2 separate regions of the Homo sapiens genome follow, and region 1 is linked to region 2. The links come from fine-mapping of genetic effects on gene expression. Tissue or cell type: whole blood. Region 2 holds a variant in brackets; the other region holds the start of a gene. Each region is shown on its reference strand, or each on the opposite one. Region 1 holds the start of CBX7 (chromobox 7). Region 2 overlaps JAZF1-AS1 (JAZF1 antisense RNA 1).

Region 1 (16,439 bases), not on the chromosome of region 2:
AAACAGAACCTAAATAATGAAGAGATAGAATGTTTTCATGGGTTGGAAAATTCAATATTGTTAAGATGTAAATTATTTCCAAATTGATCTATAGATGCAAAATAATCCCAATAAAAATATCAGTAGTCTTTTTTCTTTTTGGTAGAAATTGACAATGTGCCCTTTGCCCTTTATATGAAAGGGCAAAGGATCTAGAAAAGCCAAAAAAAAAAAAAAAAAAAAAAAAGAACAAAGTTACAAGACTTAGACTACCTGATTTTAAGACTTAATATAGGGCTGGGCATGGTGACTGATGCCTGTAATCCCAACACTTTAGGCGACCAAGGTGAGAGGATCGTTTGAGGCCTGTAGTTGGAGACCAGCCTGAGCAACATAGTGAGACCCCATTGCTACAATTTTTTTTTTTTTTAATTAGCCAGGCATGGTGGCACACACCTGTGGTCCCAGCTACGCAGGAGGCTGAGGGAGAAGGATCACTTGAGCCCAAGTGATCAAGGAACAGAATTGAGAGTTCAGAATTTAATCCATGCACATAAAAGCAACTGACTTTTGATAAATGTGTTAAGGCAATTCAGTAAGGAGAAGTACAGTCTTTCTAACAAAAGGTGCTGGAACAATCGATTAACCTTATGGAGAAAAAAATGAACCTTGACCCTCACCCCACATCATATATAAAATTAACCCAAAATGGATCCTATTCTGCAATGTGAGAGCTTTTGTTCTTCAAAAGACATCATTTAAAAAATTAAAAGGTGGCCAGATGCAGCGGCTCATGCCTATAATCCCAGCACTGTGAGAGGCCAAGGCAGGTGGATTGCTTGAGTTCAAGAGTTCGAGACCAGCCTGAGCAATAGTGCCAAACCCTATCTCTACAAAAAAAATGCAAAAATTAGCCGGGCATGGTGGTGTGCATCTATAGTCCCAGCTACTTAGGAGGCTGGGGTGGGAGAATTACTTGAGCCTGGGAGGTCAAGGGTACAGTCAGCCATGATCATGCCATGGCACTCCAGCATGGGTGACAGGGTGAGGCCCTAGCTCAAAAAAAAAGAAAGAAAGGAAAAGAAAAAAGAAAGAAAAAAATTAAAAGGCAAACCAGTCTTGGTGAAAATATTTATATAAAGAAATCTTTTTTTTTTTTTTTTTTTTTTTTTTTGAGACAGAGTCTTGCTCCGTTTGCCCAGGCTGGAGTGCAGTGGTGCCATCTTAGCTCACTACAACCTCTGCCTCCTGGGTTCAAGTGATTCTCATGTCTCAGCCTCTCAAGTAGCTGGGATTACAGGCACACACCACCATGCCCGGCTAATTTTTGTATTTTTAGTTGAGACGGGGTTTCACCATGTTGGTCAGGCTGGTCTCAAACTCCTAACCTCAAGTATCTGCCTGACTCGGCCTCCCAATGTGCTGGGATTACAGGTGTGAGCCACCATGACTGGCCAAAAATTCTTGTAACTCAAGACTAAGAAGATGATCTGATTTTTAAAATGGGCAAAATATTTGAAAACGCATTTCACCAAAGAGGATATATGAATGGCAAATAACTACTTGAAAGGGTCCTCAACATCATTAGCCATTAGAGAAATGCAAATTCTCTACATTCAGTCAGTATATGGGCAATAAATAGCTAAAATTGAAGATTGACAATATCAAGAGTTGGTGAGGATGTGGAGCAACTGGAACTCTCAAATAGTGTTGGTGGAAATGCAAAATAGCACAGCTACATTAGAAAACAGTTTGGAATTTTCTTTAAAAGTTACTATACATGGCCAGGTGCCATGGCTCACACCTGTAATCCCAGCACTTTGGGAGGCCGAGGCGGGTAGATCACCTGAGGTCAGGGGTTCAAGACCAGCCTGACCAACATGGAGAAACACTGCCTCTACTACAAATACAAAAATTAGCTGGGCGTGGTGGTGCGTGCCTGTAATCCCAGCTACTTGGGAGGCTGAGGCAGGAGAACTGCTTGAGCCCAGGAGGCGGAGGTTTCAGTGAGCCAAGATCACGCCACTGCCCTCCAGCCTGGGCAACAAGAGCAAGACTCCATCTCAAAAAAAAAAAAAAAAAAAAAGTTAAAGTTACCATACATAGGCCAGGCACAGTGGCTCATGCCTGTAATCCCAGCACTTTGAGAGGCCAAGGTGGGTGGATCACGAGGTCAGGAATTTGAGACCAGCCTAACCAACATAGTAAAACCCCATCTCTACTAAAAATACAAAAATTAGGCCGGGTGCGGTCGCTCACGCCTGTAATCCTAGTACTTTGGGAGGCCGAGGCAGGTGGATCACCTGAGGTCGGGAGCTCGAGACCAGCCTGGCCCACATGGCAAAACCCCATCTCTACTAAAAATACAAAAAAATTAACCAGGTGTGGTGGCAGATGCCTGTAATCCCAGCTACTCGGGAGGCTGAGACAGGAGAATCACTTGAACCCGGGAAGTGGAGGTTGCAGTAAGCCGAGATCACACTACTGCACTCCAGCCTGGGTGACAGAGTGAGACTGTCTAAAAAGAAGAAGAAGAAGAATTGTTCCACATTCTTGCCAGTGCTTGCAAGATTTTTTTTTTAACGGTCTCTCGCTGTCACCCAGGCTGGAGTGCAGTGGCGTGATCATATCTCACTGCAGCCTTGAACTCCTGGGCTCAAGTGATCCTCCCACCTCAGCCTCCTGAGTAGCTCAGAGTACAGGCATGCACCACCACACCTGGCTAATTTCTGATTTTTTTGTAGAGACAAGGGTCTTGCTATATTGCACAAGCTGATCTCGAACTCCTGGGCTCAAGCAATCCTCCCACCTCAGCCTCCCAGAGTATTGGGTTTACAGGCGTGAGCCACCACACCTAGCCTGCTTGCAATAATTTTTAAAACGGACTTTAACATTTTTGTTAATCAGTCGTATCTCATTGTGGGATTTTATTTGCGTTACTCATGAGCTTGAACAACTTTTCACAACTGTTGGCCACTGGTGATTCCTCTCTTTGCCTGTCCAAGTCTTTGCCACATTCTGCACTCCTGTATTTTGCTACAACTGATTGTCCATCTTCCCACTTGATTCACAGGAACTCTTTACATCACCTCCTTTGTCCATTTATGAGTGTTTTAAATATTTTTCTTTTCTGTTCACTTTATATATATTTTCTTCTTTTCTTTTCTTTTTTTTTTTGAGACGGAGTCTCACGTTGTCGCCCAGACTGGAGTGCAGTGGTGCCACCTCAGCTCACTACAACCTCTGCCTCCTGGGTTCAACCCTGCCTCAGCCTCCCGTGCAGCTAGAATTACAGGTGCCTGCCACCACGCCTGGCTAATTTTTGTAGTTTTTAGTAGAGATGGAGTTTTGTCATGTTGGCCAGGCTGGTTTGAACTCCTGACCTCAGGTGATCTGCCCGCCTCAGCCTCCCAAAGTGCTGGGATTACAGGTGTGAGCCACCGCGCCTGGCTCTTTTTGTTTTGTTGTTTGTTGGTTTGGAAATGGAATTTCACTCTTGTTGCCCAGGCTGGAGTACAGTGGTGCAATCTCGGCTCACTGCAACCTCCGCCTCCCAGGTTCAAGCGATTCTTCTGAGTACCTGGGATTACAGGCACCCACCACCACGGCCGGTAATTTTTTGTATTTTTAGTAGAAACGGGGTTTCACCATGTTGGCCAGTCTGGCCAGGCGGGTCTCGAACTCCTGAACTCAGGTGATCCACACACCTCAGCCTCCCAAAGTGCTGAGATTATAGGCATGAGCCACCGCTCCTGGCCTTGTTTTTTTAAGACAGGGTCTCACTCTGTCACCCAGGCTGGAGTGCAGTGGCACGATCTCAGCTCACTGCAACCTCCACCCCACAGGTTCAAGCGGTTCTCCTGCCTCAGCTTTTCAAGTCGCTGGCTGACTTTATATGTATTTTCATAAAGAAAGCTCATAGTTTTAATGGAGTCTAAGTTATCAATTGTTTCCTATATGAATTATGTTCCTGGTTTCTTGTTTAAGAAACGATTCCCTACTTCATGATCATAAAGATAAAGATATTTTAAAATATCATCTTCTAAAAGTTTCAGAATTTTGTCTTTCACATTTAGGATTTGAAGTCAGATGGAGTCAATTTTTGCCAGGCAGGAGGTCTAATGGTCTAATTTCCTGTATGAATAACTATCACCATTTATTGAAAAGTGTATCCTTTACCCAGTGACTGCAATTTTATTCTCTCTCTCTCCTTCTCTCTTTGACTAAGCTCTCATTGTCATTCCTTTTTTTCTATTTGTCTAGTCTTGAACAATAGGACATTGTTTTATTTGCTATAGCTTTATGTCTTGTTGTTGTTTTTTTTTGTTTGTTTTTTGTTTTAAACAGTCTCGCTCTGTCACCCAGGCTGGAGTGCAGTGGAGCCTGAACCTCCCAGGCTCAAGCGATCCTCCTACCTTAGCTTCTAGAATAGCTGGGATCATAGATAGCTACATGCCACCATGCCTGACTAAATTTTGTATTTTTAGCAGAGATGGAGTTTTGCCATGTTGGCCAGGCTGGTCTCGAAATCCTGACCTCAAGTGATCCTCCCGCCTTGGCCTCCCAAAGTGCTGGGATCACAGGTGTGAGCCACCGTGCCCGGCCAAAAAAATAAATTTAGATCTTCTTTAATGTCTTGCAATATAATTTTATGATTTTATTCCATAAGGGCCTTGCATATTTTCATTAGATTTATTCCCAGATATCTTACATATTTTTATTATAATATAAATAATATTTTACTTCATTTTCTAATTATTACTGGCATATGGAAACACAAAACACAATAGGTTTTTGTCTGTTGATATTTTATCCAACAATTTGCTAAATTTTCTTATTAATTATAATAAATATTCTGAAGATTTTTAAAATTTTCTACATAAAATCTGAAAATAATGATGGTCTTCTTTCTTTCTTTCTTTTTTGAGACAGAGTCTCACTCTGTAGCTCAGGCTGGAGTGTATTGGTGCGATCTTTGCTCACTGCAACCTCCGCCTCCCAGGTTCAAGCAATTCCCCTGCCTCAGCCTCCCGAATAGCTCGGACTACAGGTGCAAGCCACCACGCCCGACTAATTTTTGTATTTTTAGTAGAGACGGGATTTCACTATGTTGACCAGGCTGGTCTCAAACTCCTGACCTTGTGATCCGCCCACCTCAGCCTCCCAGAAGACTTCACCTATAAGCTATTGAAGGCCTCCTAAAGTGCTGGGATTACAGGCATGAGCCACCACGACTGGCTGATGGTCTTATTTCAAATCACTTCACCTTTCTTTCATTTGTTGTCTTTTTTTTTTTTTTTTTTTTTTTTTTTTTGAGACCGTCTTTCTGTGTCACTCAGGCTGGAGTGCAGTGGTGCCATCTCAGCTCACTACAACCTCTGCCTCCTGAGTTCAAGCAATTCTCCTGCCTCAGCCTCTCCAGCAGCTGGGATTACAAGTGCCCACCACCACACCTGGCTAATTTTTGTATTTTCAGTAGAGATGGGGTTTCACCATGTTGACCAGGGTGGTCTTAAGCTCCTGACCTAAGGTGATTCACCTACCTTGGCCTCTCAAAGTGCTGGCATTACATGAGTGAGCCACTGCACCTGGCCTCATATAACTTTTGACTCTCCCAAAACTTAACTACTAATAATCTACTGTTGATTGGAAGCCTTACCTATAACATAAACAGTCAATGAACGCATATTTTATATGCTACATGCATTATATATTGTATTCTTACCATAAAGTAAGCCAGACAAAAGAAAATGTTATTAAGAAAATCATAAGGAAGAGAAAATATATTTACTCTTCATTAAGTGGAAGTGGATCATCATAAAGGTCTTCATCTCTTCATGCTTTGTAGGCTGAGGAGGAGGAGGAAAAGGAGGGGTGGGTCTTGCTGTCTTGCCACCTCCCAGAGGTGGAAGAAGACTCATGAATAAGTGGACCCACATAGTTCATACCTGTGTTGTTCAAGGATCAACTGTAATTTAAAATTTTCTAAAATCTTCATTAAAAATTAATTTATAGGCCAGGCGCGGTGGCTCACGCCTATAATCCCAACACTTTGGGAGGCCAAGGCGAGCGGATCACCTGAGGTCAGCAGTTCGAGACCAGCCTGACCAACATGGCAAAACCCCATCTCTTCTAAAAATACAAAATTAGCTAGGCATGGTGGTGCATGCCTGCAATCCCAGCTACTCAGGAGGCTGAGGCAGGAGAATCGCTTGAACCTGGGAGGCGGAGGTTGCAGTGACCTGAGATCACGCCATTGCACTCCAGCCTGGGCAAGAAGAGTAAAACTCCGTCTCAAAAAAAAAAAAAAGATGAATTTTTTGTTTAACCTAATGTATCAAAATATTATCATTTCCATATTAAATAAATATCAACTTATTAATGAGGCATTTTACATGTTTTGGGTACTAAATCTTTGAAATCTGGCCTGTATCTAATTTTATTCTTCTGTCTGAGTTCGAACTAGTCACATTTCAAATGCTTGACAGTCACATTTGGCCAATGGCCACCACAGTGGGCAACAGATTCAGGATATCCAGTGTGATGTTTAGCAGAAATGGGGATTCATCCAATCTTGCCTTGTAACTGATCTCAAGGGGATGTTTTCCACATTTCAACATTCATTAAGATATTTGCTGTAGGTTTTTTATAGAGCCCTCTACCAGGATAAAGACATTCCCTTGTGTTGATAGTTTGCTACAAGTTTTAAAACAAACAGATGTTGAACTATTTCTGCATATACTGAGATGATCACATGTCTTCCTCCTTTAATTTTTTTTTTTTTTTTTTGAGTGGAGTTTGCTCTAGTTGCCCAGGCTGGAGTACAACGACACGACCTTGGCTCACTCCAACATCCACCTCCCGGGTTCAAGCGATTCTCCTGCCTCAGCCTCCGGAGCAGCTGGGATTATAGGCACCCGCCACCATGCCTGGCTAATTCTCCTTTCATTTTTTAATGAGGCAAATTATATTGACTGGTTTTCAAATGTTAAACCAACCTTGCATTTCTGGATTAGACCCAATTTTACCACTATGTAGTATCATTTTTACATACTGCTCAATTTGATTTGCTGTTTTATTTAGGATTTTGGTATCTATATTCATAAGTGACATTGGCCTGTAATTTTCTCTTGTGCTGTACTTGCCATATGAAGAATTGGGAAGCAGTCTCTCTTTTTCTATTATGTGGAAAAGTTGGGGGTAGCATTGGAATGAGTTCTTTCAAGAGCTTATAGGTGAAGTCTTCTGGGTCTGAGCTTTCTTTGTGGAAGCATTACCGGTTTCCTTCCTTTAATCATTATGGGGAGGTCTGATGTCCAGCTGGTGCCATAGGACTTCAGGTTGCTCAAATTCCAAAATAATTTCATACCAATTGGTATGTAGCCGCTACGATCAACCTCCTAAGTGCAATGACTCTTCCAGGGATGCCCCAGATCCCCCAGACCTTCTGATGTCACATAAATCACGGAATTACTGCCTGGACAGCCTTCTGGACCCTGCTCCATGTGAAGGCTGGAAAGTGTTTCAAATGGTCAGTAACTGGCTATGAAAGTATTTCATAATTTGGTACTATGACTAGGGATGGTACTCATTCGGGTTTTCTCTTCATCTTGCGACCATTTTGGTAAGGCATATTTTCCTAGGAACTTGCCCCTTTCATTCAAATTTTTACGCTATTGTAATGAGACTATTCATAATATCCTCTTTTATTTTCCTTTTTAAAATGTCTACAGGTTCTGTAACTTTTAATTACTGATATTAGTTAATTGTGTTTTCTCTCTTTTTTCTTGATCAATTTCAACAGGAGTCGTCCATGCCATTAGTCTTTTCACAGAAATAATGTTTGGTTTTGCTGATCCCATTTCATTATTTTCTCTTTACCATTTCTTCTTCTTCTTTTTTCTTTCTTTCTTTTTTTTTTTTTTTTTTTTTGAGATGGAGTCTCACTCTGTTGCCCAGGCTGGAGTGCAGTGGCATGATATAGGCTCACTGCAACCTCCGCCTCCAGGGTTCAAGCAATTCTCCTGCCTCAGCCTCCTGACTAGCTGGGAGTACAGGCACGAGCCACCAAGCCTGCTCATTTTTATATTTTTAGTAGAGATGGAATTTTGCCATGTTGCCCAGGCTGGTCTTAAACTTCTGACCTCAGGTGATACGTCTGCCTTGGCCTCCGAAAGTGTTGGGATTACAGGCGTGAGCCACTGTGCCTGGCCTATTTTCTCCTGTACCTTTACTCTTGCCTTCCTTTCATTTTCTTTGGTTTATTCTGCTGCTCTTTTTCTAGCTTCTTGAAACGAGCGCTTGTTCATTACTCTCAGCCTTTTCTCTTTACTAATATAAGCACAAAAGGCAATAAACTTCCCTCTAAGAAGCGCACTAGCCATAGCCCAACATTTTTACTATGTAATATTTCTATTGTCATTCAGTTAAAAATATTTTTTTCATGCTTAAAGGCAAATGTATTCAGTTCCTTTCCATGCAGCACACAATAAGTTTATCTATGTGCTTATTTCTTTTCCAAATCAACAGTTTGAGACAACCTTTCAGGGTCTGCTCATCCTCCATGGCGAGTCATCTTGCAATGTGATCTGGTAAGTGTCTTGCATGGGGGAAAAGGAACCTTCTTGCTGACCTACAGATTGGCCACATACGGGGTGTATGGGAGGAGACCTAACAACTATTGCCTCTTCTGCCACCATCAAGCTCATGGTAGGGCCACATTAACTTTTTTTTTTTTTTTGGAGACGGAGTCTCACTCTGTCACCCAGGCTGGAGTGCAGTGGCGCGATCTCAGCTCACTGCAACCTCCGCCTCCCGGGTTCAAGCAACTCTCCTGCCTCAGTCTCCCAAGTAGCTGGGATTATAGGTGCCTGCCACCACGTCTGGCTAATTTTTTTTTTTTTTGTATTTTAGTAGAGATGGGGTTTCATCATATTGCCTAGGCTGGTCTCAAACTCCTAAGCTCCGGCAATCCACCCGCCTCGGCCTCCCAAATTGCTAGGATTACAGGCATGAGCCACCGCACTTGGCCAAGGGCCACATTAACTTGTACCAAGAGATGCTTATAGAAGCCACTCGGATTTGCTACAGCAGGGAGGAAGGCACAGGAGAAGAGGAGAGACTTGATGTCCTATGATGGAGTGTAGAGACTGCTGGATGGAAAAAAAACAAGAACAATGAAAATAAGGTCATCTTCCTTAGGATGCCATGCCAAACAGAAAGCCTCCGAAAAATCCCCCAGTCACTAGAACATTCTTCACAAACGACACCACCTCCTCAGCTTTGCTCCTGACCTTGGTAGGTATCTGATTGCTCTTAAGGGATCTTCAGCAGCTCTTTGGCTTTCTTTATATCTTTCTCCACTCGTTGCCAGTCAACTTTGATGTACCCAGTATGATTTGCAAGCTGAAGGAGAAAAAAACAAAACACCTCCCACAACTGTTACAGCCAACTTTCCAACCTTCTGGGATATGAAACCCGTGCACCATTCAGTGACACCCCCAATGAACGGCTGGGTTGCCACCCTTCACTTTTCGGGGAAGGTCCAGATTCCTGCCTGAACAGCTTACACCACCATGGCTGTTTCTTAGCAAATTCCACAAGGTCCAGCGACTCAAAATTTCCCTCAAAGTTTGCTTGACTGGACTCGGCCATTTCATCGAGCTTGTCTTGCGAGGACACACGCAGAGGATCCGCGCTGTAGGAGGCGGAGTGGCACACAGAGTCATCACCACTGGTTGGCTTCCAGCACGAGGGACAGATTTCCATTCCCACGGCGACAGCGGAAGAGCAGTTAAAAATATTTTATAATTTCCATTACAATTTCTTTTTTTTGAACCGCTAGTTAACATAAAAACGTACCTCTTCCGTGGCTCATGCCTGTAATTGTAGCATTTTGGGAGGCCAAGATGGTTGAATCACCTGAGGTCAGGAGTTCGAGACCAACCTGGCCAACATGGTGAAACCCCACCTCTACTAAAAAGACAAAAATTAGCTGGGGGTGGTGGCGGGTGCCTATAATCCCAGCTACTTGGGAACCTGGGAGGCAGAGGTTGTAGTGAGCCAAGATCGTGCCACTTCACTTCAGCCTGGGTGAAAGAGCAAAACTCTGTCTCAAAATAAATAAATAAATATAATGAAAAACAAAAACAAAAAAACCCATACTTCTTACTTTCCAAACATATGGGGCTTTTGAAGTGAACTTTTTATTATTCATCTCTAGCTTATATGTGTTGTGGTCAGAGAATGTATTCTGTTATTTCTGACTTTTGAAATTTATTGAAATGAACTGTTTTTGTAAGTATTCCATGTCTTGTAAAGGGGAGTATTTTACCATGGTAGATAACAGTGTGCTATGAAGTCCATTAGTTAAGTTTATTAATTGTGTTCAAATCTCCTATATACTATTGAATATTTTTCTTCTTCTCCTACCACTTATGGAGGGGTGAGTGTTAAGATCTCCCACTATAATTGTGGATTTGTCTATCTCTCCATCTAGCTGTCTTCTTCATGTTTCTTATATTTTAAGATGATTTGCATACAAATGTGAAATTGTTCTATTTTTCTGGTGAATTGGACACTTTTCATTATGAAATGACCTTATTTATCTCTAGTGATGTTTTTCCCTCGATATTAAAATAACTGCACCAGCCTTCTTTTCGTTAGCATTTGCGTGGTATTTTCCCCCCATGTGTTTACTTTTGACCATCACTAGCTTTATGTTTTGGAAGTGTCTCTTGTGGGTTTCTCTTGTAAACTGCATCTAGCTATTTATGCATTCTGATAATCTTTGTATTTTAACTGCAATATTTAGTTGCATTTATTGAATCACAAAATATTCGAATTTATAGCTATCGTCTATTTGTCCCCTCCCTGCCCCGTCTTGTATTTATTTTTCTCTCCATTCTTGCCTGCTTTACAGTTGTTTGGGTTGGTTTAATCATTCTTTTTCCTCCTCCAATAATTTGGATAACTATACACAGTATTTCCAGTCCTACAGTGTTTATCCCAGTAATGACAATCTGGATTCTTAAATTCGTCAAAGTGTATTTGGTATCTATCTTCACCTTCCTCCTGAAGAATATAAGGATCTTAGAACACTTTAACTCCATTCACCCAAGTAAATGCCATCACTGTTGTGTATTTTAAATCTGTTTTTATCCAGAAGTCATTGTTATTGTTTCACACTATCGCTGTTCTTCATTTTTCTTTATTCCCAGTTGCATCAGACCTCCGTCTGGGATCATCTTTTTCCTGCCTGAAGTTCCAGCTTTGGAATCTCCCTCCGGAGGGTCTACCAGTGGCAAACTCTTAAGTTTTTGTATTTGTAAGTGCTATGATTTCACCTACGTTCTGGATACATGTGCCTCATACTGGGTACATAATTCTTGAAATACATTTTCACTGAATATATAATTCTAAGATGATGGTTATTTTCTCTCTGGCTTTGTTGCTCTTGATGAAAAGTCAGGTGTGAATCTATTATTCTCTTTTTCTATGTGCCAGAAAGAGGTGTTGGATTTTATTGTGAGGGAAATAGGGAGGAAAATTTTTAAGCACAGGGTGACCCCGTCAGATCTGCATTTTAGAAGCACACTCTGGCACTGTGTGGCTGAGATCGGAGGGAGGGCAGCTCCGCGAGGTCTCTGCTGTGGTCCAGAGAAAAGACGGGGCGAACCTGGGAGGTGGGTGCGGTGAGGGCAGGCAGACCCGAGTCCCCGAGGGGATGCCGGAGCGACAGAAGTTGGGGTCAGTACAGGAAGGAGCAGGGACGACGCCGGGCTCCCAGTGAGGAATGGAGGCGCGTTAGCGAAAAAGGAAGGGGGGTGGGGAATCAAGAGTTCGTCTCGTGCCACAAATGGTTGAGCCCCCACTAAGCACCTAGCGCCCAGTACACGCGGGTTTGGGGAAGGCTGGGGCAGCGCGGCGGCAAAATCCGTCCCCGGGGGACCTCAGCTCCACCGCGGCCGCTCCTGCCGCGAACGAGGGCCCGGCCCGGGAGCCCTCGAGGCAGCGCCCGCGTCTGACCCGTGCGTCTGGGCACCGACCACCGAGGGTCGGGTGGATGGACAAATGGAAGGGCGGATGGAGGGGTGGGTGGACGGACGTGGAGACACTGGCCAAACTGCGCCGCGGAGAAGGCCGGATTAGGGAGACCTCGGCCCTGCGACGTCCGGACACGGTGGGAAGCCTTTTGGGTCCCGGCTCTCCTGCAACTCGAGGGGCTGCGCCTCGGGCCCAGTCTCCTCCGCTGCGGGAGGTGAGCAAATGGCCTCCCCGCTCTGAGCCTTGACTTTGTCGTCGGCTCCACTGGGCCCTGCCACTTCGGCCCCTGGCAGTCACCGGGAGGCTATGAGGCGCCCGCCTGGGTATTAAGGATCACGTCCCGCCCCGGCGTCACAGCAAGACGGGGCGCGCGAGCCTCCGCCCCGCCCCAGCCGGTGACCGAGCCAAATAAGTCCCACGGCAGCGCTCGCGGCTCGCGGCCCGCGGCCCAATCGCAACCCGCGGGGGCGGGCCCCGGGGGCGGGGTTCCGATGGGGGCGGGGCTCGGGGGCGGAGCTGACCCTCAGGGCGCGAGCCGAGCCCGCGGCCGTTCCGCGCGCTCCCGCCCCGCCCCCTCCTTGCGCGCGCTCGCTCGCTGGCGCCGAGGAAAACGTTGCGCAGGTTCAAAAATGGAACGTCGGCGGCGTGAGGGAGCGCGAGGGGGTGTGCGCGCGTGCGCGTGCGCGTGCGCGCCCGGACGAGGGTGACGGGGACCCCGCCAGCCCCAGCATCGCGCGCCGCAGCCGCGGCCCCGCAGCTCCGCCCCCGGCCCGGCCCGGCCCCGGGCCCGCTCGCCCGCCGCCCCGCATGGAGCTGTCAGCCATCGGCGAGCAGGTGTTCGCCGTGGAGAGCATCCGGAAGAAGCGCGTGCGGAAGGTGAGGCTGCCCGGGGGCGGCTCCCAGGACCCCAGTGGGGTCCCTCCCGTCCCCAGCACCGCTCCCTCCACGCTGGGGCTGAAGGGGAAAGCGGGGCGCGGGGGCCCCGGCAGCCCTGCGCTGCTGGGCCCGTCTCCCCAGCCCGTGCCTCAGTTTCCCTGCCACCGTGTAGGGCGAGTAGAACAAAAGTTGTCGCTCCAGGATGCTAGTGGCGGCCGAGCCTGCCTGAGCTGGAGATTAGGATCGGACGTAGGGATCCTCAGCGCCATCCCACCTCGCTCCCCTTTTATTGTAAATATGGGGAGACTGAGGCCCAAGTTGAAAGGACTTGCCTAGCGCGTTATGGTCAGAGCTGGGTTTTGAACTCGGGACTCTGGACGCTTGGCACCAAATCCTTTCAAGTTGTAAGTGGAGCTTTGGAAAAGTCTCCTCCGGCCTCTGAAGTTTTTCCTGCTGGACTTTGGCCTTTTCCGATCCTGCCCCCTCTACGCCACCCGAGCACATCCCTATTCCCCGCCCCCACCCCCACCTCAACTCCTAGCCCAGGCCAGGGCTCTGAAGCCCGCCCCCTGCGCTGGGGCATCCCCTAGTCTCCTACCCCATCTGCCTTCTTCAAAACATACACCCTGCAATTTAAGGAGGTGTCTGTTCTGCTGGTTTCAGAACCCCACACTTTGGGGCTAGACTTTGTCCGGGCCTGGCGTCTACACCTCCCGTGCACTTGTTTGGCGAGGGGGCTCGCCTAAGGCTGGGGAAATCCTTGGGGAGAAGTTCCTTTCCTGGTACGCACTACTGTCCTTCCTTTGTCTCCTCCTCCCTGCAGCCCTTTGGGAGGCTCCAGGCCGACTGGGAGGGGCCTTAGGGGGTCACCTCCTCCCATTTAACAGAGACAAAAACTGAGGCCCAGGCAGAGGAAGTGACCTGCTCAAGGTCACCGAGCAAGTTAGATAGGGAGGTAGAGCAGGAGCTCAACTGGGCTGATTGGCAGCCCATCTTCTTTCTCCATAGAGAAAACTCAGTCCTGGCATCTCGGGCCAAGGGTGAAGGTCAAGGTGGTCAGGAGCATCTTTTCTTCCTCCAGCTGTGCTTGGGGTTTTACTCTTCTGATTGAGGCAGCTGTTCCTCCTCCTTCTCCTTTTTCCTAGGGTTTTCTCCACTTAAAAGAGAATTGATTTATTCCACAAAGCTCAGTGCTTTTCGTGCTGTGTAGCCTGAAGCAGGCACAGCACTAACTCCCTCTACGATGGAGCCCGCAGGGTAGCACAAGAGGGCGAGATCATCATTCCTTCGGCCAGTCACTCAAAATATTTATTGAGGGTTGGTCAGGTACCAGGCACCAGTCTAAGCCCCAGGGATCCACCCCTTCCCTCAGGGAGCTGGCATTCTGCAGAGGCGGCACACAGTGAATGAGGAGATACAGACAGATGCCTTCAGATGGAGCTGTGTGCTCTGCAGAAATAGAACTGCAAGGTGCCAGTGGAGACAGCATGGGAGAGGGTCACCAGGGAAAGCCTCTGTGAGGAGGTATCATATTTTGGTCTTAAAGTTCTGGCGTGCAGGGGCTTCACTCACAATGGGGTTGGACTGTAAACTTTTTTTTTTCTTGGCACCAAGATCTCACTCTGTCACCCAGGCTGCAGTGCAGGGGCATGAACATGGCTCACTGCAGCCTCAACCTCCCCGGCTCAAACGATCCTCCTGCCTCAGCCTCCTGTGTAGCTGGGACCACAGACAAGTGCCACCATGCCCAACTAATTTCCTTTTTTCAGAGACAGGGGTCTCACCGTGTTGCCCAGGCTTGTCTCAAACTCCTTCCTGGGCTCAAGCGATCTTCCAGCCTCAGCCTTCCAAAGTGTTGGGATGACAGGCTTGAGCCACCGTAACTGTAAACTTTTAAAGCCTGTGAGGAAGGGAGGGGCCTGGCTCTACTTTCTAACAACCACAGGGCTGACCACCCCTTCTGAAGGTGGAGACTTTGCCAGTCTTCCATGGGGTCCTGCCAGGGTCTTTTGAGTTGAGAGTCCTCAAGTCACTGGCCCATTACCTCTGAGCCAGAGGCAGCCACTCACAGACTGAAAGGGGACTCAGCAGATGGGGGAGGAGCGTGGGGACTACCCCAGAGAGGAATGTTTTCGTATTTGGAGACTCTTCCAATCTAAAAAAGAAAGTAAGCGTTCCCACCTGTGCACTGGGGCTCTAGACACTGTGGGTCTTTGGCCACGCATGCACACCTCCATGCAGTCTCAGCTCCCAGTGTGTGACATGAGCCCTGGGCTTGGGCCTCAGGAGCCTCAGAGGTGGCTGGAGCCAGACGCACTCCTGTGCTGTCCTAGGGAGGGCAGTATGGGGCGGGCATGCAGCAGTCGCGGTTATATGGGTTGGCGAGGATCTGGTGGACAGTCCCCGGATTGTGTTTGTGTGTTGGGGAGACACCTGTCTGCAGATGGGATTTGGAGCTGGGCTCCTTTGGGCCTTAACTGTCCTTCCGAGTGGCTGTAGGGGCAACCACGAGACTCACTGTGTCTGCTTCTCTCTCTTCTCAGGGTAAAGTCGAGTATCTGGTGAAGTGGAAAGGATGGCCCCCAAAGTAAGCTCCTTCATGTGTGTGTGTCTGTCTGTCTGCCTACCGACCCATGCATTCCTCCACCTGCCTTTTGCCCCCTCCCCTGCCTAGCTTTTAGCTCCAGCTACTCTTGTAACTGGACAGCTGACCTTGATTTAATCATCATCTTCTCTGGGCCTCAGTTTCCCCCTGGACCACAGGAGGGTCAAGGTGGGTCTCCAGCTTCTCTTCTCACCCTGCCCTCCTGAGTGTTGAGCTCCTCTGCTAGTTGGAGCTTCTGCTCTCCCTCCTCCCCTCCCTGTGGCTTTTCTTGGCAACTGGGAGGTGAAGGCCCAGCATCCGGGCTACTGGAGATGGCTGCTGGACAGGAGGAGGGGACCCCAGCTGCTTTAAGCACAGTGCTGCATGAGTCCTCAGTGCTGTGTGGCCAGGGGCAGAGCCTGAATCCCCCTCACCTCTAGACGGCACTTTCCAGTCTATAGAGCAGGTTCCCATACAGCTTTGTAAGGTAGGTGTGATCAGGCGCTCTCAAGGTGAGGAAACAGGCTCAGAGAGGGTAAGCAGCTTGCCTTAGGTCACACAGCAAGTGGAGGCAGAGTTGGGACTTGAACTAGGCCTTCTCCTTTTCAGGTGTCTCCTCTGTGCCTTCCCAGCCTCCCATCTCGGAGTTGGGAGGCAGGGAGCTGTATCTGAGACCTCCCAGCTTCTCCACCTCTCCTGCTGAGGCCCCATCAGGAACCCACCAATGCCCTCCAGCAGGGAGTTGTTGGGAGGGAATGAGCTAGTCGTGGGGCCTCCCCATTGGTCTGTGGGTGCCCCACCCCCTGCCCCGCCTCCCGGAGACTGAGTCCTGGAAACCCCCTCTGCCCAGAGCTGCTGCTGTCGGGCAGGGACTTTTTGCTGTGCTGGTGGGGGCTGACCTGGTATGGGGTCCTGTGGGCATTCTGGGGTGATGGTGGGGAGAGACAGCAGAGAG
Region 2 (16,499 bases):
ATCTGTCCTGTCCAAGAAACTAGATGGCTTCTCTATTTGACACTGCAGACAGCAAATGCTTCCATCATCTCAGAAGGTTCTACAGGATGCACACTGCTCTAGATATAAACTGAATTGTAGAAAAATAAAGTTACATCTTTGGAATATCTATGCTTATAGACTGAGATTATTACTTGCTGTACGTATACACATTCCTCATTAATAGGGTATCATAAATTCTACTCTTCTTTTAACCTTTTGTTTGTTTTTAGCAGATTAAAATACACTGATTCAGCCACTTCCTTTCACTGAATTTTCTGTGTTCAGTGGCCTATATGTTCAAGATAGCTAGCGGCAGGAAAAGGATTTATCAAGAACAGAGTGAAACCAACACTGATTAGGGAAAGAAAACCATGGTATTGTTTGCTAGATAAGGCCACAGCTCCGGGGAATATGTAAGGACTTTAGCTTTCTCTCTGAGTAAGATGGAAGTCATGGGTGATTTAAGCAGGGAAGTGGCAAGATCTGGTGCATATTTTAAGACACTCACTCTGGCTGCTATGTGGAGAATTAGTTGAGAAGGTACTAAGGTGGATGTAGGGAGACCATTTATTGCAATACTCTAGGCTGAAATGATGGCTGCTTGACTCAGGGTTGTGATAGTGGAGATGTTGAGAAGTGGTCATCTTCTGAATATACCTGATGGGAAAGCTGCAGTATGACTGATGGATCACACCTAAGGAATGAGAGGAAGAGAGGGACAAAGAATGAGTCCATGTTGACCTAGGCAGCTGGAAAAAGGACATTTCCACATATTGAGCTGGGAAAGCTTGCAAAAGAATAAGAGTTTGCAGAGGGAGTGTTTTGGAACATGCCACATTCGAAATGGGTACTTAAACACCCAAGTGGAGACATGACATAGACAGCTGGAGGTGTAAGTTCAGAGGTAAGGGCTGGAGATAAAATGTTGGTTGTTACCAGCATATAGACAGTATTTAAAGTCATGAGACTTACATGAGATCATTTGTGGAATGAGTAGGTGAGTGAAGCTAGAGAGGAAAGGAGATCTTCAGACTGATCCCTAAGACTCAGCAAGGTTCAGAGATGCAAGCAACACAGAAGATTAAAAAGAAGCCATCAAGAAAACCTGAAAACCAGGGTAGTAGGGTCCTGGAAGCCAAGTGAAGATATAGTCAATGAATAAATGGTCAGCTGGGGTTGGTAGGTTGAATAAGATGTACACCAAGAAATGAGCTTTGAGACTGGAAGCACAAAGATTATTTGGGCCTTGAAGGGACAGGTTTTGGAGAAATGATGAGGCTGAAGGCCTGAGTGAAATGCGGCCCAGGCTTCCTGGGATGCTCATCTCCATGAAGTATAATAGCACAAAGAATTTAGCACCTGAAGGAACCTGTGGATGCTATTGACTTGGGTGGACCCAGTGAAACAAATCTCTTGAGAGAGATGTTATACACCTAAGAGACAGGACAAGAGCAACTCAAATTAGAGAGAAAAATAACTAGAACATCATGAGTCTTCAGGTACTAACTCACACCGAAAAGATACCAGCTATAGGGCTTTAGAAACACCCAAGATTATTTGTGTTACTGTTAGATGACTTTTTTCTCAGATTAAATTTAATTCTCTGGCGTTACCTCTTAAAACTCTTGGTTTTTCAAATTTACTCATAAACTGTAGCTGATGTCTTAAGGGGGATCAGATTAGTGAGACTAATAGTATAATCTACCTAGAGAGTTAAGTGGTTGTTTTTTAAATAAACATTCTATTTTTGCACTTTTTTAAACGTGCAGGAGGGCAGATAATTAAAAGCTCCACCCTGGCCACCTCATCAGAGGAAACCTAACCATTTCTGGGTTTAGTTCTTCCTTACATAATAAGTTTATATATTTTTTCAAAAATCTACTTGTCAATTTAAGAGATTATTGTTCAAAAGATTCAAGAATATTCAAGAGATTGCCAGAAAGGCAAAAACGTCATTCATTTTCATTATTCTTTTTCTACCCTCCTCCAAAATGTTAATGACTATCACTCTAGTTCCTTTATAGGTTACCTTCATTATATGCTTACATAGACTTCTAGTTCTTTTTCATCAGTTTTGGCCATTACCTCCTGATTCATCACTTTAATAGTTAAGTATATTAAGACCCTTTTAGAAGTGTTTCCAGCTATAGCTAATAATTCCACATCTGTCTCTTTATCCTTACTTGAAGCCACCAGTGTTCAGTGTCACCAGTGTTCACTGTCATTTCACTGGTGTTCACTGAAGTAACATCCTAAATGCTCTCCTTCAGTCCTTTCATATTTTCTAATCTAGAAACTCAAATTTGAGCGTGCATTAGAATCCCCTGGTAGGCTTGTTCAATCACAGATTGTTGCTCGCACCCCCAGTGTTCCTGACTGAGCAGATGAAGAGTAAGGCCTGAGGAGCTGCATTTCTAACAAGTTCCCAGGTGAGGCGGATGCTGCTGGTCCAGGAACACACTTTGAGAACCACTGCTCTAATCCATTCTCTGCACTGACACGAATCTCCTAAGCATTGGCATACAGACTCCTTTCTACTCTGGCACACATTGTCTTTTTAAAACAGTTTTACTGAGATAGAATACATATCATCCAATTCACCATGTAAGTGTACAATTCAATGATTTGTAGTATATTTATAGAGTTGTATATACATCACCACAATCAATTTTAGAATTCTGAAAGAAACCCTGCATCCCTTAGTCATCACCCTTAATATTTATTTTGATAATATCGAGTTCCTATTGTGTCTTATTGGTCTTTGCATCCCTAGCACTTAACACAATACCTACAGTAGGCATCAATTAGTGTTTGTCGAGTGAATGCAAAAAATGCAATCAATTCAGTTAATAAGCTGTAGCTAAGATTTTACCATATAATTAAAAAGCATAGAATATATTACAACAAAGACTGTTAGTTACCTCCTGGTAACAAGACTCCTCTTCTTAGTAACAGAACCTCAATTCACATTTGGGTACACTGCTCTCCAGCTAAAAGATCACACTTTCCATTCTTCCTTGTAGCTAGGTTGGCCATGTGACTAAGTTCTAACCAAGGAGATGGAAGTTAAAGTATTATGTAAAACATTTGAGAAGTCTTCCAAAGGGAAGGGGCAATGCCCCTTTTCAGCCTTTCCCTTCTCCTGCTGCCTGGAACTAGGATGTGATATCTGGAGCTCTAGCAGCCATATTGGACAATGAGGATAAGGAAACAGAAAGCTGGAAGAGCCTTTGACCCTGAAGACCAAGGAATTACATGCCACCTTTTACAGGAAAATACTTTTAAATCTTAAGCCTCTATTTTTGGAATTTTAATTGATTGGAGACTAATGTGATCCTCACTGATTTATCAAAGCCTATGCTGTTTCCACCACGCTACAGGATTCAAGGCACAAAAATGCCTTCTGTTATTACTGTTGAATTGAACACACTTTTTGTTGTCACCTGTTAGTGCTCCTTTGGGCATCCCTTGAATTTGGGGTCAATATCAAAGTGTTTCAGTTTGTTGGAGTAGCATTGATTCATTGAAAGAGAATAGGTAGACAGTCTTAGAGTCAATCTTGGTTCTGTCTCTTAATAAACCTTGCTGAGCCTCAACTTCTTCCACCAGAGAGTTGTAACAAGACCCTACCTGTAGGCTTGTCAGGAAGATGAAAGAAGAAAGGCATGTGACACATCCAAAGGAGTGGCTGACACATAGCACAGAATGCTTCTTCCTGCTCATGCGGGGTCTGTCTAGGGAGCTCAGGTCAGAAACGAGTTAATTTGAGACATCTTGATCATTTCACAGCATCCACAAGAAACATTAGACAATTCTGATTTAGAGGAATCTGAGCCAGATTATAAACTACACGAGGGCAGGGACTGTCTTGTTTAATGCTATATCCCTATTGTGTAGAAACAGCAGCATTCAAGGAACGTTGGCCGAATTAGTGGATAAAAGCATCTTAAGTTCTGTGACTTCAATGCCTCAGAATCAATATTTCCCTGCATGTAACAGAGACTAAGTATAGACCAGTGTTCCTTGTAAAGTGACCAATCAAACCTCTATCAGAATCTTCTGAGGCCATTGCTAGACCAGGGTCCAAAACACCCCCTACAGCTGTTTCAGGGTCCTTGAACTCTGCACCCAAAAGATGGGACATTATGCGCAACCATCATTTATAAGCATCAGGCAATGGGATGCACGTGAAAGTCACAACATGGCAAAATAGAAGCAACCAGATTAAATCAACCTTAATCCCGAGCGCTTGGGAACATTCACATTCTTTTTTTTTTTTTTTTTTTCATTTTTTTCTCCTCTTGGGAAGAGCATTGGCGGGGTGATAAATTCTGTACCCAGACCCTGACTCACCTACTCTGTTAGGAAAAAGAACTCTTCTCACCTCCAGAGCTCTTATGAGCTAACTGCTGAAAACTTTTATGAGCTTTTTTACAAAATGCAATATCCCTACAATGATTCTAGTAGCTGCCTCAGGAGAGAAGCAGCATTTTTTCCTTTTTCTTTTCTTTTTTTTTTTTTTTTGACACAGAGTCTCGCTCTGTCGTCCAGGCTGGAGTGCAGTGGTGCAATCTCGGCTCACTGCAAGCTCTGCCTGCCGGGTTCACGCCATTCTCCTGCCTCAGCCTCCCGAGTAGCTGGGACTACAGGCATGCGCCACCATGCCTGGCTAATTTTTTGTATTTTCAGTAGAGATGGGGTTTCAAAGGTTTAACTGAAGCGCCATGCAATCCCCTTGGAAATTCCCTCTTCAAGTCTGTAAAATAAGCAGGAAACAAATACAAGCGTCTCAAACTTCAGATACTCATTTTGAGAAACAGGTGCAAGCCTTGTGGCCCTCATATCCAAGAAAAGCATCAGTGTTGATCCACCAGCAATTTTCAGGAAGCAGATTTTGCAAAGGAGATCAACTCTGTGTGTGTAAAAAGATTTGGAGCCCAAACCATAAGAAGTTATGGAAGAAAGGAAAGAATATGGCATTTCTCTCCCAGGCAGGGCATTTCCTATCCTAGTCAAGCTCAAGGATCCCCAGGGCACCAACTCACCACCCTGCCCTTCTTTACTTTCTTACCTTCCTGGGCTTCTGTCCATCTTTAAAACTTTAAAGGAGTAAAGTACTAATAGATGCTATAACATGAAAGCCTTGAAAACACTACGCTGAGTGAAAGAAACCAGGCACAAAGGGCCACATACTGTATGATTCCATTTACATAAAGTATCTAGAATAGGCAAATCTATAAAGACAGAAGATGGATTAGTTGCTCCTTAGGGGTGGAGTGGAGGGATAGAGGAATAGGGGATCATAGCTAAAACGAATGAATTTTCTTTTTTGAGGCGATGAGAATGTTCTAAGATTTACCATGGGGATGCTTGCACAACTCTGTGAAGATACGAAAAACCATGCAATTGTACACTTTGAATGGGTGAATTGTATGTTATATGAATTATATCCCAATAAAGCTCTTACCAAGAAAAATCCTTTTATGACTAGTTTTAAAGCACATTATGCTTTATGTAAAATTTTACCTAACTGTTATTGCAAGGCCATTCCAGAAAGGACACTGTGGATGAGCGGGGCAAGTGAATGTATTTAATTGACGTCATTCAGAGCTTCCCAAGAAGTACTCCAAAGGACAGCATGTTTTCAGCTGTTAATAGGTGAAATAATTGTTTTAAAAGGCTCCACAGTCAAGGAAATTTAAGAACAACAAAGTTAAATTTCAACAGGATCTCTACTGCTGGAGCACTCAGAGATTTAATAGGCAGACATGCATTGTGCATCTCCAAGAAGAGGATTTACCAAACCGGTTTAATCTTGAAGCCTTTTGTCACAGAGCATGGTGCAGAGTCAGTCTTCCATGACATGTATGCTGGTAAATGCATTTACTTTAATCTCAACAGGAACCCCTGGAAACAAACGTTATGCAAAAATTAACATAGGTCCTCATACAATGGTAACATTTTCATTTACATGTCTGCGTCTGATTTTAAAAGTTCACTTATAAACATTGTTTTTGCTTTCTAAATTCTTTTCATTCTATATTTAATATATGTAAACATAAGGAGTGTGATTTAGAGTAGAAATTCTCTTTTTCGCTAAGTAATAAGAGATTTTCTGGTATAACTTGGCTTGCTTCTATGAAGTGGAGTTTGCTTTATGTTTGTTTTATTTTTCTCCTGAAATAGAAAGGCATTCTAAGAACATATAAAAATCCTCAGTAATCCTTCTGTCCCTGGCCCATAGATCAAATCGTTCTCTCAGAATTCCACTCAACTGCATTTCTCAGCAAAGATGTATTGGCAAGCTAAATGGAGAGGTTTCAAATTACTCAGGCTTTATTAATTTTACAAAATATGCTTTGAAGTATTATAATAAATAATTAAAAGTAAATAGCACTTTTGAGATTAGTGAGCAGATGCTTGCAGGCATTACTGTTTCTTTCCTACCCTGTTCTCCACTTGCAGTGCCACAGAAAAGACAATCCATTGCTGCATCTTCCTCCCATCACTGCATCACGGCTTGAGTTC[C/T]ATTGCCCAGACGTATTGAGAAATAACAATTCAAGAAGGGAGGGAAGGAGACTAATAACTACTGAGCATAAAAACTGGATAGATAGAATGACAAGAAAAAGTACTCTCAGCCGGGGAAGGCGCCAGGTTGAGAAACTTCAGGTACTCATCTAAAGTGTGACACCTATCAGTAACTCTGTTTGGCAACTAATATTAAGAATTGTTTGCAGTGGGCTTTGCACTTTACAAAGCACCATCAGATGCAATATCTTAACCTTCAAAACAATTGTGAGAGGTAGCTCCTTTTTCCCTGTTTTACAGATGGAGAAATTGGGGCCCAGAGAAATTAAGAAACAGGCCTAAGATTCTCAGATAGAATACTGTGGAACAGCAATTTGACTCTGAGGCTTCTGAATTCAAAATGTACTCTCTTTCCACCTTCACTCAGCTGGGAGAAGTTAGAAAGGCAGGCTGGGAAGAGATTGCAAAGGTCTTTGAATAACAGAGAAGTTTATCCTTTACCTTGCAGGCACTATAATTATTATCTAAAGGCATACAGCTACAACATGCTTAGGCAAATAGATTAGCCATTTCTGATTATCTTAAGAAAATTTCCCAGTGTATTTAACCTGTAAATGAGTTCAAACAATCATTTTTGAAAAGCATCAAATGTTTACTTGCTTCTTGTTGTTGTTTATTTTGCCATTTTTGTGGGTTTTGTTTGTTTGTTTTTGGTTTTGTTGTTTTTGAGACAGGATCTCACTCTGTCACCCAGGCTGGAGTGCGTTGGCACAATCTCAGTTCACTGCAGCCTCAACCTCCTGGGCTCAAGTGATCTTCTCGTCTCAGTCCCCTGAGTAGCTGGGACCATAAGTGTGCCACCACGCTGGCTAATTTTTGTAAATATTTTTTGTAGAGACAGGGTTTTGCCATGTTTCTCAGGCTGGTCTGGAACTCCTAAGTTCAAGCCATCTGCCTTCCTCAGCCTCCCAAAATGCTGGGATTACAGGCATGAGCCACTGCACCTAGCCTACTTTCTGCTTTTACTCCATCTTACAAATGTTCATTGTGTACATAGTCCGGGATCATTTTAAAAGAGGTCCATATCTATCAGTTATTCATAAAGGATCCAAATAAACTAATTTCCTAACCCTATGTCTGTCCTTCCAAGCTTTACACTGGAACAGGAAGCAATATAAAGAAAGTTCTAAATCCAATATTATGTATTAATTATTCAATGCACATTAATTGAGCATTTACTATGTGTTAGGTAGGCATCTATGTCAGGGACTGTGCATTCAAAAAATGAAGACCACATGTCCCTACCATTATAGAGCTTACAGCTAAATATAGCAAAGCATCCAGGCAAACAGAGCACAGTGTGATAAAGAATAAAACAGAAGTCCGGATGCGGTGGCTCACACCTGTAATCCTAGCACTTTGGGAGGTCAAGCCAGGTGGATTGCCTGAGCTCAGGAGACCAGCCTGGGCAACGTGGTAAAACCCTGTCTCTACTAAAATACAAAAAAATTAGCAGGGCATGGTGTCATACGCCTGTAGTCCCAGCTACTTGGGAGGCTGAGGCAGGAGAATTGCTTGAACCTGGGAGGCGAAGGTTGCAGTAAGCTGAGATCGTGCTCCTGCACTCCAGCATGGGCTACAGAGCGAGACTCCATCTCCAAAGAGAATAAGACAGAAAGCATAGAGAGACATAGGAGCACATCACTAGACTTAGGAGTTGGTGAGGTTTCCTTGAGGAAGTGACATGCAGGCTGAAGGACCAGTGGGAGTACAATGGTGTCAGGGCTAGAAGCAGAGATTCCAAGCCTGACTTTTGCATTAGATTCACCTGGAGAGTTTTAAAAACTACTGCTGTCTAGACCCCACCCAGGCCAATTCCATCTGAATCTCCAAGAACAAGGTTCATTCAGGCAGCAATTTTTATAAATCTCCACAAGTGATTCTAATGTGCAGCCCTATTCTAGAATCAGTGACTTCAATCTTTACTAAAAAGTGTTTCAGAGTGGAAACGATGTGAACCATCTCTAAATTCAGATTTCAGTTCCATGTAAAGTCAAAGTAAATAATTTTCAGATGATTTTCTTGGTATCTATAATGTGACCTTTATCTTAATTATCTTGGGTTTCAAGAATATTTATGGCAAAGGGGACATGATAAAATTTTTTTACAAAAAAAAAAAGATGACTCTGAATAGTCTCAATATTGCTAGCTTTTCCTAACAGTTGGGAGAAAACAGCTTTTGTGGTAACTATCCCTGTGCTTACCAGCATTTTCTGTTCTGCTACTATGGGCAGTGGGAAGACTATTCTTCCTTGCCCCTTTAAAATTATGAGTGGTCACCTGACTCTTTAGCCAATAAATAGTGAGCAGAATTGATGTGTGTCTCTTCCATGAGGAAGTATGTAAGAGCTGGTCACATGTTCTCTTCCCCCACCTCAGTGATCCCTGAAGGCTTGGATGGCAATGGTAACATCTTAAGACAGAGGGATGATGAGGTCAAAGCACACTGGAGCGCTGAGCACCCCACAGAGAGCACTTACCTTGCAGAGCCACTCATGACATGCATTGTTTTAAACCACTAAGATTTTAGGGTCTTTATCACCTAAAATTCAGTTTATTACTGCAGCACAACCTAGTCTCACCTAGTAACTACCTTCTCAACCAGGCAGATCCCTAAGTTTGTATTTTCTTTCCCTAATTCATGAATTTTCTACTCACATGCTTTTCCATGATCAATATTAACAATTAATATCCATCCTTCCTTCTTTATTTTTATTCTCTCTTCTTTTCCTCCTCCTTTTCTCACTACTTTTTTCTTTCCTTTCTACTTAATCACTCATTTTAAAAATCACTGGAGATGCCCAAGAAGAAGGAAAGTTAGAAAGTAGTTGAGTGGGTGGTGGCCCAGCAGGCTGAAGGATTTGTTGCATACAGGGGGACTGAACAAATAAATACAGTCGGCCCTCCCTAGCTATAGATTCCACATCTGTGAATTCAACCAACTGTACATCAAAAATATTTTTTAAACAACATCTGCACTGAACATGTGCAGACTTTTTTCCTTGTCATTATTCCCCAAATAATATAGTAAAACAAGTATTTACATAGCATTTACATTGTATTTAGTATTATGAGTAATCTTGAGATGATTTAAAGTATTCAGACAGGCTGGTCATGATGGCTCATGTCTGTAATCCCAGCACTTTGGGAGGCTGAGAGGGGAGGATTGCTTGAGGCCAGGAGTTTGAGACCAGCCTGGGCAACATAGTGAGATGCCATCTCTATAAAAAATTTAGACAATTAACTGTGTATGGTGGCACATGCCTGTAGTCCTAGCTACTCAGCAGGCTGAAGTGGGAGGACTGCTTGAGTTCCAGAGGTTGAGATGGCAGTGAGGCATGCTTGCACCACTGCAATCCAGCCTGAGCAACAGAGAGAGACCGTGTCTCCAAAATAATTTTTTAAGTATTCAGGAGGATATGATTAGGTTATATGCAAATACTATGCCATTTTAGATCAGGGACTTTAGCATCTGCAGATTGTGGTATCCTTGGGACGGCCTAAAACCAATCTCCCCATGGATATGAAGGGATAACTGTATATTGAGGATTATGCAGCCGGGTTCCTTTGCTGCCTGATAAGAGAATTTTAAATATGAAAAGGTGAAACGATTGTGTTTGAATTGAAGTGGAGGAACTGCTATAAACTTATATATATATATATAATTAGATAGATATAAAAATGAATCTAGATGTTTCAATGTTCTGTCCTTGTTCTGTCCACTGAGAGATCCTGGAAGCAGCAATAGGCCAATAGCAGTAAGCCTACATAGCTTACAGATTTCTAGAAACCATTTTCCACTAACAGAAGAGATCTTAGAAAAAAAGAAAGACAGATTTCAGGGCTGGTGCAGCAAAAGCACAATTTGCTTCTGCTTTTTTTGAGTCTGAAAAATAACATATTATTATTATTATTATTATTATTGAGACAGGGTCTGGCTCTCTGTTGCCCAGGCTGGAGTGCAGTGGTGCAATCTCAGCTCACTGCAACCTTTGTCTCCCAGGCTCAAGCCATCCTCCCACCTCAGCCTCCCGAGTAGCTGGGACTACAGGTGGGCACCACCACATCCAGTTAATTTTTATATTTTTTGTGTGTGTGTGTGGAGATGGGGTCTCGCCACGTTGCTCAGGCTGGTCTCAAACTCCCGAGCTCAAACAATCTGCCCACCTGGGCTTCCCAAAGTGCTAGGATTACCGGCGTGAGCCACTGCGTCCAGTCTAAACAATAACTTAATGTCAGGAAGTAATGACGTACTCAAAAATGATGGGGGCATGTCAAAAGGACATAGAAGCCAGTTTGAAGCCAGTTGAACCATTAACACACTGAATAAAGTATCATTGAGTCCAATCATATTTAAACAAACTAATAAATAAATGGAAAAAAGAGAAAGTTCCTCTTTTTAGCAGATGCTAGCTATTAAATGTAGAAGAAATAATAGAAAATCACCATTTGGCAATGATCATAGTAATAACTGATTCAGGCAAGAAACATCAATGAATGCTAACATTTGTGGGCAAGAGTTAGAAGACAAATGAAATATTTACATAGTCTCAAAGTATGTTTCCACAAAAGACATTCATTATAAAGGAAAAAGAATAACTTTCTAGTAAAGTAACCTGGCAGAAACCACCTTACTCAAGTATAACATCAAATGTAACATCACCAGATTGAAATCATGTGCCAACTGACAGGATGTAAGAACTTGGGATTGCTTTTGTAATATTCCCTCAAAAATGCATGCATAACCTGGCTCTAATAATGAGGAAACATTGAAGTCCCCTAAATTGAGGAACATTCTACTAAAATAACTTGCCCATGATTTTAAAATTTTACAGTCATGAAAGCCAAGGAAGGACTATGGAATTGTTCTGGATTGAAAGAGACTGAAGAGGCATGACAACCAAAGGCCACACATGACACTGTATTAGATCATTTCCCTAAGGACATTATTCAGACAATTAGTGAAATGAATGGGATCTCTGAGTGATGTACATATAGGAGTTCTTTGAACTGTTCCTGCAACTTTTCTGTGATTTTGAAACTATTTCAAAATAAAACATATTGTTTTTGCAATTTGTAATAATTTTATAGACTTCCAATTCAGGTTTATGTTATAATCTGAAAAAATATTGGAAGTTTGAGAGTAATCTCAAATTATTTGGAATTAGCTATGGTGTGTTTTCTTTATTTTTAGTAAAGTTATTGAAGTTTGATAATAATATGGTTTGGCTGTGTCCCCACACAAATCTTATCTTGAATTGTGGTTCCTATAATTCCACATGTCATGGGCAGGACCTGGTGGGAGGTAATTGAATCATGAGGGCATTTCCCCCATGCTATTCTCATGATAGTGAGTTCTCATGAGATGTGATGGTTTTATAAGGGGCTTTCCCCCGCCTTCACTCTGCACTTCTCTTTGCTGCTGCCATGTGAAGAAGGATGTGTTTGCCTCCCCTTCTGCCATGGTTGTAAGTTTCCTGAAGCCTCCCCAGCTCTGCAGAACTGTGAGTCAGTTAAACCTCTTTTCTTTATAAATTACCCAGTCTTGAGTATATCTTTATTAGCAGCATGAAAACTAATATAAATATCTTAATTTTTTTAAGATTGTTATTATTCAAGTTTGTCTTTTATATTTAAGTTTGCACAATCACTTAATGGTTTCAGAACAGTGATATGCTCTAGGGAAATATGGGTATGACAATTAGGCATGTGTACCAAGAAATTATTTTCACCCAGGTCTTCAGTAATTTGAATGGATATCTATAGTACATGCCAACAGAATATGACTCAGAAAGCCATTAAATTCAAAATATAGAAAGAGAAAGACCCCCAAGCACTGAGCTTTTTCCCCATGCTTAACAAAAGTAAATTCCTTTGGCCAGAAGAATATGAAATGAAGATTTTTAAAAATTGTCTTCAAAAAAAGGCAAAATATTTTCTTAAAAGCAGTCTGTAAAATAAAAGATAAGTTTATTAAGCAAAGATTTTATTTTTCTATATTCATAAACATATGTCAACAGTTTGCAAATTGTGCCCAAAGGGGCAGCCCTTCAACTCACTGGTAAACAGGTATTCTGTGGACCATCCCAGCATGCACTTCCTGACACTGCCTTCTGGGCCAAATTCCACCCTCATCTACTGAAAGAGACACAGTGAGAAGTTCAAAATCTTAGCTTAACAGGTGTAGGAGCTGGTCTCTAAGTAATCCTTTAGAGAAAGGATTCAGGTCCCAGATCACCTCCCTCAAAAGAAGCATGTGTAATCCATCCCACTCAAATGGCCAGTCGTACAGTGTGGGGTTTGTATTGAATGTGTACCTGTGCTAGGGACCAAGGGTCAACCTGGACTCTGCTTTCCATGATGAGGGAGCACAGTGCCCAGAGAAGTATTAAGTCCTGCCCTGTCTATCTTAAAATCATACTCAAAAAGTTCTAGTTGTCATGTGTCCATCATGTCATTTAATATCATACTACTTTCATAAAATGCAAGGATAATGAAATATCACAGTTCTGAAAGTCTCAAAAAAATTTTTTTCATTCATCTCAAAATTATTCGGTTGGTGCAAAAGTAATTGTGGTTTTTGGTTTTGCTTTCAATGGCAAAAACTGTAATTCTTTTTGCACCAACCTATAAATCACTCTATGGACTCCTTAAGAACTGTATTAAAATAAGTAGAGAAGAGGCAGGCAAGTAAGTTATGAAATAAGTTTCCACTCACCATATTTTCTTTAACTCAGAGTTTTAGGCAGTTTAACATCAGATAGGATGAACAATTCCTCAGCCATGCTTAACTTTCTTTGTTTGCCAGGGGTGCCATAACAAATACCCCAGACTGGGGGGGTTAAACAACAGAAATTTATCTGGAGGCTGGAAGTCCAAGATCATGTTAGCAGTAGGGTCGATTTATTGTGGAGCCTCTCCCCTTGGTTTGCAGACGGCTGTCTTCTCCCTGTGTCTTCACATGGTCTTCCCTCTGTGTGTATCTATGTCCTAATCTTCTCTTAGAAGGACAGCAGTCACATTGGATTAGGCCCCATTCCAGAAACCTCATTTAACCTGAATTACCTCTTTAAAGACTATCTCTGAACACAGTCACTTTCTGAGATATTGGGGATTAGGCTCATGCCTGTAAACCCAACACTTTGGTAGCCTGAGGCAGGCAGATCACCTGAGGTCAGGAGATCAAGACCAGCCTGGCCAACATGGCGAAACCCCGTCTCTACTAAAAATATAAAAATTAGCCAGGTGTGGTGGTGGGTGCCTATAATTCCAGCTACTCAGGAGGCTGAGACAGGAGAATTGCTTGAACCTGGGAGGTGGAAGTTGCAGTGAGCTGAGATCTCGCCACTGCATTCCAGCCTGGAGGACAAGAGCAAAATTCTGTCTCAAAAGAAAAAAAAAAAGAAAGAAAGAAAAAGAATCTGGGGGTGATATAATTTAGCTCCTACAGTAGGTATTGATTAAGAATTATTCCTTTTGCCTGGATTAGAGCCTTTATCAATAATAATATCCACACATTTTAAAAATAGACAAAGCTTATTCCATGACTAAAATTTCTAGAAAACTTTCAGAGCTATGTGGACAACTTCATTCTTGGAGAAGTAGTTCCCTAGCCCACTAATTCAGAGGCCATTCAGGTCTCTCTGCACTGTATCTTTGAAAGACCAGCATTGGTATTAAATTCCAACTTGGTCAATAACCTTAATGGGCTTACTATATTTTTTTTAAGTCCAGATACTATGGGGCTTGAGGATATGATTGAGCCCTCAATTAATACTCATCTTATGGTAGGTTTTGAAAGCAGCTGTGGTCCTACCCAGGAAGGTCCCCACCTTGATCACAATCTCGTGGCCACAATTTCTAGACAAGCCAAGATGGCATGCATTTGAGAACATAGCTTTAAGAACTATCTGCCTTCCCCCAAATTCGAGGCTGTGGTGAAGCTCTCCTACATTGCTAGTATGTTGGAGTGTAGCTTGTTAATAGCTCTCAAAAGTAAAAAACAAAAGAAAAATGTATAATAAAATCTGATCCTGAAATCTACTTCTCAACACTTACCATACAGAAAGATGTGTGTGTGCCTGTGTGTGCGTGTGTGTGTGTCTGTGTGTGTGTGTGTGTGTAATATATATGTGATGCATACATGGTGGATGAAGAATTTTCGCTGCACTATTATTTATAATACAAAACATAAAAACAACATAAATATCCATCATAGGAGAGTGGTTAAATAACACTGGTATATGCATACAATAGAAAATTATGCAGCTGTTAAAAAATTGTACTGCTATTTTTGGTAATGGCAAGCTAGGTTATTCATACCAACCCTCCCACTGAAAGCAATTTAAAATGCTGGCTAAAATATTTTTAAATTAGCCCTTAAGACAAGGGAGATCCAACAAATAACAAAAGATATCTGAACAAAAGTGAGAACCCAGAGAGATAAGTGATCACAGCAGCCATCTTTATCCTGAGATCATTTGTCAGTCCCAGCAACTTCAAAATTCTACTTGTTGGGGTGAAGGGAAATAAATCAAAGCACTCAAGGTACCCCAAGACCAGAAATATAACCAACACCAACACCATCTCCAGGGGAATGCAAAGGAAGTTGCCTTTATGCTGAGCTGAACAAGAGGGAAATCCCCATCCTGAGATTTTTTTTTTTTTTTAACTACAAATTAGCTCTAACAAAAATTTTTACCTAAAATTTACATCATCTGGGTGGTCCACAAGAACCTCAAGCCATGAATTTAAAGTGATCCCAGGCTAAATAGTACAGTTTTTATGCGGCAACTACAAAAACAAATTCTCTACAGAGGAGGCACCTTTATCCTTGACCTCAAAGAACCCCCACATACAACTTTTCTAAGGTGATGAGAAGCACACAGCCAAAAATAACCAACCACAGGAAATGAGGCATCATGAGCAAGAACAGGAACAATAGAAAGTAGAAACAGACCCACAAATAATTGAAGTATTGGAATTATTAGACACAAGCTTGAAAAAATTTCTGCAGATATAGAAAATATAAAAGGTGATCTAGCATAGTTGAAAAAGAACTAAATGTTTAGAAATGTCTAGAATGTCTAGGAATGAAAACAATAACTCAAATTAAAAACTCAATAGATGGGCTTAACAGTAGCATTAGATACAGAAAAATGTATCCATGGGTTCAGTGTAATCACAGCATTTTGGGAAGCCAAGGCGGGAGAATCACTTGAGCTCAGGGGTTCAAGACCAGCCTAGGCAACATAGCAAGACCTAGTCTCTACTAAAAAAAAAAAAAATTAGCTTAGTGTGGTGGCACATGCCTATAGTCCAGCTATTTGGGAGGCTGAAGTGGGAGGATTACTGAAGCCAGGGAGATCGAGGTTGCAGTGAGCCGTGATCATGCCAATGCACTCTAGAATGGGCAACAGAGACGCTCTCTGAAAAAAAAAATGTATCCAGAATACACTAAGAGGCGAAAAAAAAGATGGGAAAAAATGGAAGACAGCTTAAGATGCCTGGACTGTAAAGTGATAAGGTCTAAAATACATTTAACAGAAATGATATTTTCATTATTCTGAAAGATAATAGCTACCAATGCAGAGTTGTATATATTTCTCAGTGACAATAACTTTCAGTAATGAAGGCAATAAAGACATTTGTAAAGGAAAAACACAACTTAATACTAGATGTCCCTTATTCAAAGAAATTCTAAAGGTACAGCAGTCAGAATGTAAGTGAACTCAGGTGGAAGGTTTGAGATATGAGAAGGAAGTAAACACAGAAAAAGAGAGAGGACGTAAGAATGGCAAGCAGAGAGGGGTGGGGCAATGGCACGCGAGGGCAAAGGCAGAGGTTGGACAAAATGTTGGAGTGAACCAGCCCACACCTACAGCATCTTT

The links. PIP is the estimated chance that this variant, and not a neighbour inherited with it, causes the effect. A credible set is the group of variants that fine-mapping cannot tell apart.
Region 1: it holds the start of CBX7, and the variant in region 2 is the best candidate, but not a certain one, in a credible set for the expression of CBX7 in whole blood (TOPMed, PIP 0.75).

Annotation. Positions count from the first base shown.
Region 1 is chr22:39,148,837-39,165,275 of GRCh38, reverse strand. CBX7 (chromobox 7) reads left to right here and starts at 12,596. Exons shown (of 6, transcript NM_175709.5): 1 at 12,596-12,900; 2 at 15,444-15,487. The coding sequence starts at 12,832. It also overlaps the pseudogene FUNDC2P4. RefSeq lists silencers at 12,290-12,859, 12,930-12,979 and enhancers at 12,437-13,018, 16,098-16,392, 16,433-16,439, 16,054-16,439.
Region 2 is chr7:28,206,672-28,223,170 of GRCh38, reverse strand. It overlaps JAZF1-AS1 (JAZF1 antisense RNA 1), which reads right to left. Exons shown (of 4, transcript NR_034097.1): 3 at 5,822-5,928. Among named protein-coding and RNA genes, the nearest start is that of JAZF1, 34 kb to the right of the region's middle. RefSeq lists an enhancer at 15,241-15,320. The variant C/T (reference allele first, on the strand shown) is at 6,550.